Linked DNA regions of Homo sapiens. The protein of the gene in region 3 interacts with the protein of the main gene of each other region in a biochemical or structural test. Each region holds a gene or a part of one and is shown on either strand. Other genes may lie near its edges.

Region 1 (3,656 bases), on a different chromosome or scaffold from region 3:
ATACAATTCTGAATAAATCTTATCTAATAAGAGAAACTGGGCAGTAAGATATTTGGTGAATGCATTCATTTTTAATTATGAAATAACACTGCTATGGTAGCAAGCTCAAGACCACAACATTTCCAAGAATGGAGAGTTTTATTTCATTAATTTCAAAATACTGGTTTTGGCAAGGGGAATTAAGTCATTATAATAAAAGACAAATCACATTGTAATAATACTAGTACAAAAAATACAGTATAGAAAATTTATTTTAAATACCTCCCCTACTAGATCTAATATTCTTGAAAGGTAAATTACAAAGTGACAAACAACTATTCATGTGTTTACATGCTTATTTTCACCACTGAACGCAGAGATTACCATAGATAAGGACCATCTTCCTCATTTATTCCCTGGGACTAGAATACTACGTCTAATGCAGATTAGGACCTTTACTCCCTTGTATCTGTGGTTCTTAATCAGAGAGGAGCTTCAGAATCACCTAGAAAATTTTCAAAATTATGTGTTTCCAGGGAAAATGATTTAGTAAGTCTAAGACCCCCATGCAGCTGTATTTTTTTTTTTAAATTCTAAACAATCTGACATTTAAAAATAAGTAAACAAGTATAACTGGATTGTAACACAAAGGATAAATGCTCGAGGTATATACCCCATTTACCCTGATGTGATTATGCATTGCATACCTGTATCAAAATATTTCATGCAACCCATAAATATATACACCAACTATGTACCCACAAAATTTTTTTAAAAACTCCAAATGTTCTGGAATATAAATGTAATTCATGTCACACCCAACAATATATAATATTCAGTAAGCTCTTCTATACGCTAACAGATACAAGAAAACTGCTATTTAAAAAAAGAATGCAAAAACCAACCTAGGTTTGAGATTTTAATCTGAAACATTTTTTTATCTCAGTGTTACGAACCTAGTTTCTTTTTTAATAGATAGATTATAGCAACATGCTGTGGAGAATCCTCAAAGATTGCCTGTCTTGGATAAAAAGGGTCACCTAAACTCAGGGGCAAAGTTTGACAGAGCAATCTAGTGACACAGTAGTTCATCCCAGTGATGGAGCATTCAACTTTTTATTTGTATAAATAACAAAAACTAGAATCAACACTGCAGATGAGCATGATGAAAGAAAAGTATGCAGTGTCAGTAATGCATCCTTTTTCAAATTAAACAAATACTGAGGTCCTATTATTATCAGCATCCTTCAGTCACAACTATCCTACACAGAAAGTGAGCTGGCTATCAACAAGCTTTGAGGACCATATATGAAACACATGCAAGACAGTTTACCCAGCCTATATACTAGTTGGGGACAATAAATATATTTTGTTCACTCTAAGACATCCTAAGCAGTTAACTGGCACATGTTAGTTTTCAGTGCTTGAAGAGACTACCCCAAAAGAATTAAATCCACTTCTACTTTCAAAATATTATTAGCCAAAATCTTAACTCACAAATTAGCTATAACCTAAGAGTAAAGCTAACTCCCAATTACTTAGATGTATAAGTGGGAGAGCAAAGCAGCTTATTTCAGGTAACAAACTAAAATCACATACATTATAAAACAGGAATTGAAGGGCCAGGCCACGTGGTGGCTCACGCCTGTAATCCCAGCACTTTGGGAGGCTGAGGCGGGTGGATCACGAGGTCAGGAGATCAAGACCATCCTGGTTAACACGGTGAAACCCTGCCTCTACTAAAAAAACAAAAAAATTAGCCGGGGGTGGTGGTGGGCGCCTGTAGTCCCAGCTACTCAGGAGGCTGAGGCAGGAGAATGGCGTGAACCCAGAAGGCAGAGCTTGCAGTGAGCTGAGATCGCGCCACTGCACTCCAGCCTGGGTAACACAGTGAGACTCCGTCTCCAACAACAACAAAAAAAGGAATTGAAATGGTTCAAAAAAGAGCTTGAGCTTTTGGTGCCTATCTGATTTGAATCCCAGTCACTTACTAGTTGTGTGACTAGACGACTATTTCTCTGAGCCTGTTACTTCATCTATAAAATTCTCACATCTATCCCACATGGTTGTCTTGAGGATTAAATGAGTTAGGGTTTAGATGAGACTGCATTGTCTTAACTACTGTAATAGATAATACTATATGCAAAAGTAAACCGTTCTGAATGACAAAAAAAAACTAAAGGATGATATCAAACTGTAGTTGTTAAGAGCACATACTCTGGACCAGGCTGCCTAGGTTCTAATCCCAACTGTCACAACATGAACCTGGGTCATCTTCTTAACCTCTATGCCTAAGTTTTTCAATTTCGAGATGGAGATAATCTTGAAATTATCTCAGTGGAAGTGGTGGTAGGAGGGAAACGAAGATCAAATGAGAGTTTTTTAACCCTTTACCCATGGTTTCCCTGCTAGCCGCTTGCTTATAATCATATATAAACACTAAAGTCATACTTCCAGAAATAAAAACCCTTACGAAAACTTAACAGGGTGTATACAATGAAAACATGAGCTATTCTTTTAGGCTTGGTTCACATATTTATCTTCAAACGTCCCTAAAACACATATATTGTAGTCCCTGTTTAATGGGAGTGGTAAAATTGTCTACAGCTCTCAATACCAATCAACTTGGAGTGCCACTTTTAACTCCTGTTGTTTAATAGCCCTATTTAAGACCATATTACAGCTCGTTCAAATAAAGAATACAGGAAAAAAGTTGATTGGTCTAACAGTCAAAAAACTTACTCCAAGAACACAGCTGAAGCAAAGTATAAATTCAAAAGCTCGATCAAATGGACTAAAGGTTAAAACTATTCCAATAATCATTTCAGTAAAATATTAACGAGGAATACAGATATATCATAATACTTGAAATGTGGGACCTTCAGACAAGAATAAATTCGAAATAGGTACGTAACACAAGCATACCATACTGACATCAATGGCTACTTGACCCCATATTTCTAGAAGAGGTGCCTAAACCGAAGAGCATTCCAGTTCAGAGCTGTCCACTCACTAAAATTGTTGGATGTGGAATGTTTGAAAGTTGCCTCATGTGATTTTAACATTAACAGCTGAAAAACCAAACCACATGCACACGTCAAAGTTTCTGTAAGTTGAATCAATAATGTTCACATAAACACTGGTTTTTCCAATATGCCAAGTTTTTATGTTGTGTCTATATTACATAAATCTTCAAAATATTTACAAAAGGAGACAACCTGGTTAACTAAGAGTACTAAACTAGAAATCAAAGTTCTTAAACAAAAACGATTTTTAAAAATTATAAATTGTGATATTAAAATAGCAGTAATAACTAGGAGTGTCATGTGCCAAGAGCCTGTTCAAATTTGCACATTAATCCATTTAATCGTCAAAACAAATCTAGGAACTTAAAATTTGTTTTGTTCACTGCTGCCACCCCAATGTCTAAAACAGTGCCTGGTACATATTAGGCACACAGTCATTTATTGTTCATATTACAACAGATACCCTTCTTATAGAGGCACATAAACTTGCCCAGAGCTAGAATTCTAACTGGAGCATTTCTGCTCCAATGTTTACACTCTTAACCACTGTTATATTGTCTCTCTAAAGCTTTTAAATCATTTAAGTGGTGTCACAGCAGCTGGGTATGACCTGTAAGAGAAAAAAAATCAGAGGCCTTCCTTTAACGTGTT
Region 2 (3,656 bases), on a different chromosome or scaffold from region 3:
CCAAAACTACTGAATTTCAAAGCAGTACTCTGGGCAGTTGTCTCAAATTATTGTTTTATTAAGTTTGTTTTTCTAAAAAGGCAAAATACAATGTATTTATATAACAACTTTCAATAAGAATCCATTTATTTCTGTTTGTTTTTAATTAGTTACTAAGAACCTTCAAAATACTCTCATTTAAAGGCCCACCCTTACCTTTTGAATTATGGCCTTTCACAAATATTTTTTAGGTGAATCACATGTAACAAATGGTTATAATCATGTTATTCATAACTCCCTTACTTTAGTAATGTAAATATTTACAGTACTCTGGACCATATCTGTCATTGTAATTTATCTTCATTTTCTATATTTCTTACAATTTTTGATAAACTAGAATTGTTTAAACAATATATATAGTAAGAATTATTATACAGGAAAATCCTCTAGCATATATGTGGAAACTTAACGAGAAAGTAATGAGTCTTGGTGTTATTACCAGAATGCTAATATAACATGATATATTTAATTAAATATGAAAGAATTAAAATAGAATTGTAGGTATAGTTTGCTAGCATTTTCTTTTTTTAAAATTTTTTTGCTTGTAATGTTATATTTTCTAATGGCTATAAAGAAACATGGTCAAATTTAAATTTCTCTAGTAAAGTTGATTCCCAATTTGATAGTAGCATGAATATATAATTTTGTTTTGGATTTTTTTGGGTTCTCTACATTATTTTATAAATAATTACTAAACGAAGATTTGGCACATAAATTGTGTAGCAGGGTCCTTAGCATTTTCTTTTCACGACAGCCTCTTCAGTTCATCTCCATTCTTGGTCATCAAGTGAACATCAGAACTTAAGTTTTACTATCCTCAACCCTTTTTCAAAAAAAATACTGATTACGGCTGCAGAAAATGATCTTTTCCCACAGCAGTCGTGTGTATACTGATCTTTAACAATTTGTACTCATAACCAGATTTGTTTGGACAAGTCACAGCACTGTGTGTGTCCTGTTTTTGTTTTGTTTTAAATTTTATGATGTCGGCATAGTTGTTGGAAAATCCTCCTTCGTACCTGCAGAGAAACCTGTTCTCAAAGTAAATGATTTGAACTTATGACAAAATGGTTGCATTTTTTTCATATTGGTAATATTTAATGAAATTATTTTAAACATGATGGCATTTTTTTCAAACTGATAATATTTGGGGGAAATAATTTTGTTGTTATAAATAAATATAGTAATCAAATGCTGATGCAAATCTTTTGTAATTTCAGCCTGATAGCGCATATCAAGGTGGAGTCTTCTTTCTCACTGTACATTTTCCGACAGATTATCCTTTTAAACCACCAAAGGTATTTTTATTTTTATGATTGATGTGACTCCCATGTAAGAGATTTTATTCTTTATCTAGAGCTCATTTGATTATCTAGAGCTCATTTGATATGTCAAAGACTGTGGGGAGGTTAGCATTTTCAAACTGTTTTGTAAAAACTACTGAATCTAAAATCTGATTTCTTATTGAAATACTGTATTAAGTCTATAAAACAAAAGTCAGTACGTGTCATGCTATAAATTAAATTCCTTGCTTTTCTTTTCCTTCTTATTGGATATGTGTAGTTTGGGACGTTTTTATGATTAAGAGTCAGACTTTTCTATTCATGGGATTATCCTTACAAAGTTGATCATTCTTTCTCTGTTTTTTTTTTTTAAGTATTCAATAAACATTCACCGAGTACCTACTGTGTTCTTCTACACTGGGGAATCCGAAAGTAAATATGAAGCAGTCCCTTAATTTAGTATGGTAGGAGAGAGAAACACATGTTAGATTTAGATTTGCTCTAAAGAGGAAACAAATGATGGGGATATCAGGGAGGGGAAAAGTGGGCAGATTTTGTCACTCAGGATATAATTATTTTAAATAGTTAAAAACAGATTAACATTGTATTTATGAAATGGTATGACAACTCTTGTGGAAAATTAGGATTCTTAATGGATTTCTTAGCTGAGACGCCTCAACTTTGCCCTGAAACAGCGTCAGCACCCTGGTTTTAGATCCAAATGTTACTTCCAGGTATCACCAATAATCAAATTAAGAAAAGGATTACTTCTACATATGATGGAAGCCATGGTTAATTACTTTAGATGCTGCTCAACCAGTCATACCGGCTACTAGAGACTTATTTATTACACTGTCCAAAATACTCTTCAGTTCCTTTGAGGGCAAAAGAAGGAAGCTGACTTGTTTGTGTTCACATTCTCACTAGCTAGAACTGTGTGTAGCACAAAGTAGATAATTATTTGATTTGTGTTGATGACTTTTCTCCTCTAAAGTTATGTAAAGTTGAGGATATTTTACCCTAGAGCAAATTGGTTCTGTTTTATTCATAGTTGATTCAAAGGTGATTGTCATATTTTGTTGTTTTGTTTTATGTTTAGATTGCTTTCACAACAAAAATTTACCATCCAAACATAAACAGTAATGGAAGTATTTGTCTCGATATTCTGAGGTCACAATGGTCACCAGCTCTGACTGTATCAAAAGGTAATTTCATTGATCAGGTTTGAAACAGTTGATAACAGTGAGACAGGAAAAATACAGCAGAATTACCTATGGACTAAAGTTTTAAAACAACAATCAACTGTGCTTTCTCCTGTTTTGATTTTGTTTTGCTCTCTTTGCTCTTATGTTACTATGGCTTTTGGCAGTTAGCTTTGGTTGAGGGGAGTGTGGATGGACAAATCTAAATGATGAAATGAGAAAAAACCTTAAAATATCAGAGCTAGAAATTTGGGGATAAACCTATTGATATTTTATCCTTTTAGCTTGGGTGTTGTCTTTTAAAAAAGAGAGAGTGCCCGGGCACTGTGGCTCATGCCTGTTATTCTAACACTTTGGAAGGCTGAAGTGGAGGATTGCTTGAGCCCGAGTTCGAGACCGGCCTGGGCAACATAGGAGACCCCATCTCTGCAAAAGAAGAGAGAGAATAAGAGATAGTAAAAGGAAGATTTTGGGACTGGTTGTCCCATTCATTAAATGGAAATGTTGACAATAATAAAGCTTTACAGCTGTTTTACTTCATCCAAGAATAAAATACCAGATTTGATTGATAAATGATTTAAGATGAAAGACATTTCACACTGTAGGATAATGCAGTACATATAGCATGTTAGTCTAAACTTCGAATAATCAGTAGCATCATTATAGTGACTGACACAAGATCTGTGCTGATTCTCAACTTTTACAGGGGTATAGCTGTTCTTTGCTGGATTATCAGGTGTATACATAGGCATCTCAAGCCATTTTATTTCATTAGCCACTGCTACTTACTGTGCTAGCACTCTTAATTTATGTCTTGTTTCTCTGAAAGAAGAGAACCTGACAGTTGGAAAATACTGTTTAGGTTAGAAGTAGCTGCACTGAAGCAACCATCAAGTTTTCCGTTTTTATAAAATTGAAGAAAATGTTTCTCTTGAAGGGATTTATGGAAGCAATCTGTACTCATTTTTTATTTTTAATAATTGCTACTTGAATATACAGCATGTTTTTAAAAGTAATAAGGTTTATAGGAAGCAGGGTCCACAGCCGTAGCTCTTTCAAATATTAGATAAATAATAGCTCTTTCAGTTCAATTATTTATGAACGATAGTTTTTCTGACCTAAGATGCTCATC
Region 3 (3,656 bases):
ACTGGTGCTGCAGCTCTGAAAAAGGGTAAAAATCTGATCTTTCCATTTAAAAGCAATTTAAACGTATCGAAAATCTGAAAAACAGGGGGAACAAAACCATTCCTAATTTACCACTCCAACACTTCCACTATGATCCTTCTATAATATTCCCTTTCAGTTTCTTTCCATGCTCTCTGTAATGGGTTGAATGCTGGGCCCCCAAAAGACATGTCCATATACCAGAACCTGTGACTGTAATCTTACTTAGGAAAGAGGTCTTTGCAGATGCAATTAAAGATCTTGAGATTCGATCATCATAGATTACCTAGGTGCTCCCTAAATCCAATGACAAGGGTTCTTATTGGAGATGGAAGACACTAAGGGAAGAAGAGACAGGTATGTGAAGACAGAGGCAGAGATCAGAGTGATGCAGTCAAAAGCCAAGGAATGCCTGAGCCACCAGAAACTGTAAGAAGCAAAGAAGGGTTCTCCCCTAGAGACTTCGGGAGTGTGGCCACGCCAACATCTTGATTTTGGACTTCTGGCCTCCAGAACTCTGCCAGAATACATTTCTGTTGTTGTAAGCCACCAAGTTTCTGGCAATTTGTCACAGTAGCCCTATGAAACTAATATACTTCCTTTTTGTAAATAGATGCAACCCTATGAGCTATATACTTTTGCTTCCTCTTTTTCTCCCACTTTATATCATAACCATTTTTCTGAATTACTACTTTTTAATCCTAATTTATAATGATTTCCCCCACAGTTGGGCTTATAGGTAATTTTTGGTTTGGGTTTGCAAAGGATCTCTCTCAGACACACAGCTGTCTGCATGCTTTGCAAGGTTGATGTTTCATCCTGACACTGTGAGTGCACCCAACACCAGCCTTGTCATGGTCAGAGCCACGCCCATCCCGCGTGGAAGCTGAGCGAAGCCACAGGGCAGGGCTGGCCTTGGAGAGCCCTGCCACTCACCCGCACATCCTGCTGCCTGTTTCTCACATCATCCAGTGCTCTCGACGCCCCGTTGATCTGACTGTACATGACAGTTAGTTTGTGCCTCAGGGTGGCCTGCAGGGAAAACAAATGAGGTTGAGAATGCACCTCTTCAGCCCAGCCCCACCAGAAGCCATCCCTGGAACTATCCCACAGGATAGATTCCTTCCTCTTCCACTCCACCCAAGTCTTGCCACCCCAAGTCCTGTCACCCGAGTCTTGCCTGCTTGGAGCTTTTTGAAGCATTCTAATACTTACTACTTCCCTTCATCCTTTTCAGAGGACAGTACAGACCAGGGTTCCAGTCCCAACTCCCAGCTGTGCAACTGTGTCCTTCACCTCAGTTTTCTTGGACACAAAATAGATACAACTGTCCCCAGCTCACAGGGCTATTGGGAGGATTAATTGAAACAATGTAAGTACTCAGCCCAATGCCTGGATCTTAGGAAAAACATACTAAATGCCAGCTTATATTATTATGAGTTTTTCTCTAATTACCCATTTTACAGCCAATGAAACTCAAGCAAGGAGGACAGAAAGGTGGCCAAGCTCACACAGGAACAGAACGAGCTGGGACAGCTGCTTCGGTAATGGCAGGTGGGGCCACTCAGACCAATCCTCCCACTGCAAACAGCCAGGAAAGCAGTCCAAATAATGGGGCAGCGGGGAGATCTGCTAAAAGATGCTGGAGAGCCAATCAAGCAGAGGATTAAGAAGTCAAGGTCCAGGAGAAGGGGGAAGGGGGCCCAGAGAGATAAGCCTGATATCTAGGATGTTCTCTCCAGAGGCATCTGCCAATCCCAGAACAAGGCTGGGAGCCTTTGTCAGCCTCACAGGGCAGGGAGACAGAAATCAGAGTCCAAGGCTCACTGCAGACTGGGACCACCAAGGGCTGGGAATAAGATGAATCAGCCAGCCAGGCGCAGTGGCTCATGCCTGTAATCCTAGCACTTTAGGAGGCCCAGGCAGGTGGATCATTTGCTCTCAGGAGTTCGAGACCAGCTTGGGCAACATGGCAAAACCCTGTCTCTACTAAAAATACAAAAATTAGCCAGGTGTGGTGGTGCACACCTGTAGTCCCAGCTACTTAGGGGGCTGAGGCAGGAGGATCGCTTGATTCCGGGAGGTTGAGCCTGCAGTGAGCTGAGATGGCATCACTGCACTCCAGCCTGGGTGACAAAGTGAGACCCTGTCTCAAAAAAAAAAAAAAAAAGATGAAGTAGCTCACAGGGGCTGAAGCCCAGGTGCAAATCTGCTCAGTCCTAGCCACCTCCAGAAACAAAGGCAAACTGTATATGAAGGAAGCTAATATCCTCATCTGATTTCAATTAATTTTCATAATCAATATCTGAGTCTCCTACCTCCCTGCTCAGATGAATACTGCACAGAAATGGGAAGGAAAATCACCACCACCATAACAGCAGCAGCCAGTATTTATTATGCACTTACTGTATGCCAGGCACTGTTCTAGTGCTTTACCTGTATTAACTTACTTAAAGCTAAGAACAACACTATGAGGTAGGAATTACCCAGCCTTTACAGACAAGGACACTGAGGCACAGAACAATTAAGTGACTTGCCCCAGCTACACTACTAGTAACTGGCACAGCTAAGATCCCGATATTAAAATCATAGACACATGCCCAAACTGAGCATGCTGGAGATTTCTAGAAAAAAAAAATTTCCTTCCCGTAACTAGCAGGCTCAACATACTCTGGCTCTCTCTTCCACTTCCCAGACTCTTCAACTCCACCCAAGATATTCTGGGCGGAACCTGATCTTGAATCTAGATTTGAACAACCCAGTGACAGTCACATGTAGGGGTTGGAGGCAGGGACCAAGGCCACACTAACTCAATCCGAAAAGCCCAAGCTGCTCATGATGTTTCAAACTTGACCTCTGTGACACTGCCCTTCGACCTGGCCTCTAACAGTGGCCAAGATAAGGTGTGGGCCAAAGACCAGGCCTACATACATCCGGCCTTGCTGGCCTCAGAGCAAGAAGAGACCTCAGAACACCCCAAGGCTGCCAACTGCTTCACTTTCAAGAGCTGCTCATAGCACTACACCCTGAGCCCTATATTTTGAAAGATTTGATACACCATTAATCAAACACATGCGGCAGTACCCTCATCATGAATGGTGCCCACACGACTCCAGACCAAAGGAAAGTGACCCAAAAACTTTGGTAGCAGCAATAATCCCCTAATCAAAGGCAAAGGACTTTTTGAAATCCTGAGGATCCCTTCACAGACTAGAGACTTGGGTCTTCCACATGGGAGGCACCAGAGTCTCAAGTCCGACCCCACCAGTGGCCAAGGCAACCCAGCCCCCGAGGCTAAGGGCATTGCCCAGCTGAGACTGGCTCTGCCAACAGTGATGAGCAGCAGTAGCAGGGCTCAAAAAGCAGACCTGTTATAGGACTCAGCAAGTCAGGACAGGGGGGTAGGTGTTGGCAGAGGAAGGCCTGTTGTTAGGATTAAACAGCAGAGTTTAGGCCAGGCTCCTGGCTCACGCCTGTAATCCCAGCACTTCAGGAGGCTGAAGTGGGAGGATCCCTTGAGGTTGGGAGTTCAAGACCAGCCTGGACAACATAGTGAGATCCCGTCTCTACAAAAAATGTTTTAAAATATTAGCTGGGTGTGGTGGTGCGTGCTTGTAGTCCTAGCTACTCAGGAGGCT

What was found.
Region 1: the proteins of TRIM25 (region 3) and UBE2D3 form a complex in vitro, tested with the Homo sapiens proteins (3 studies listed by BioGRID).
Region 2: the proteins of TRIM25 (region 3) and UBE2D1 form a complex in vitro, tested with the Homo sapiens proteins (8 studies listed by BioGRID).

The regions. Positions count from the first base shown.
Region 1 is NC_000004.12:102,821,052-102,824,707, forward strand, and holds part of UBE2D3 (ubiquitin-conjugating enzyme E2 D3), read right to left. Parts: intron 1-3,656. UniProt on the Homo sapiens protein: Accepts ubiquitin from the E1 complex and catalyzes its covalent attachment to other proteins. In vitro catalyzes 'Lys-11'-, as well as 'Lys-48'-linked polyubiquitination.
Region 2 is NC_000010.11:58,362,350-58,366,005, forward strand, and holds part of UBE2D1 (ubiquitin-conjugating enzyme E2 D1), read left to right. Parts: intron 1-1,259; coding exon 1,260-1,337; intron 1,338-2,421; coding exon 2,422-2,527; intron 2,528-3,656.
Region 3 is NC_000017.11:56,907,514-56,911,169, forward strand, and holds part of TRIM25 (E3 ubiquitin/ISG15 ligase TRIM25), read right to left. Parts: intron 1,051-3,656; coding exon 955-1,050; intron 1-954.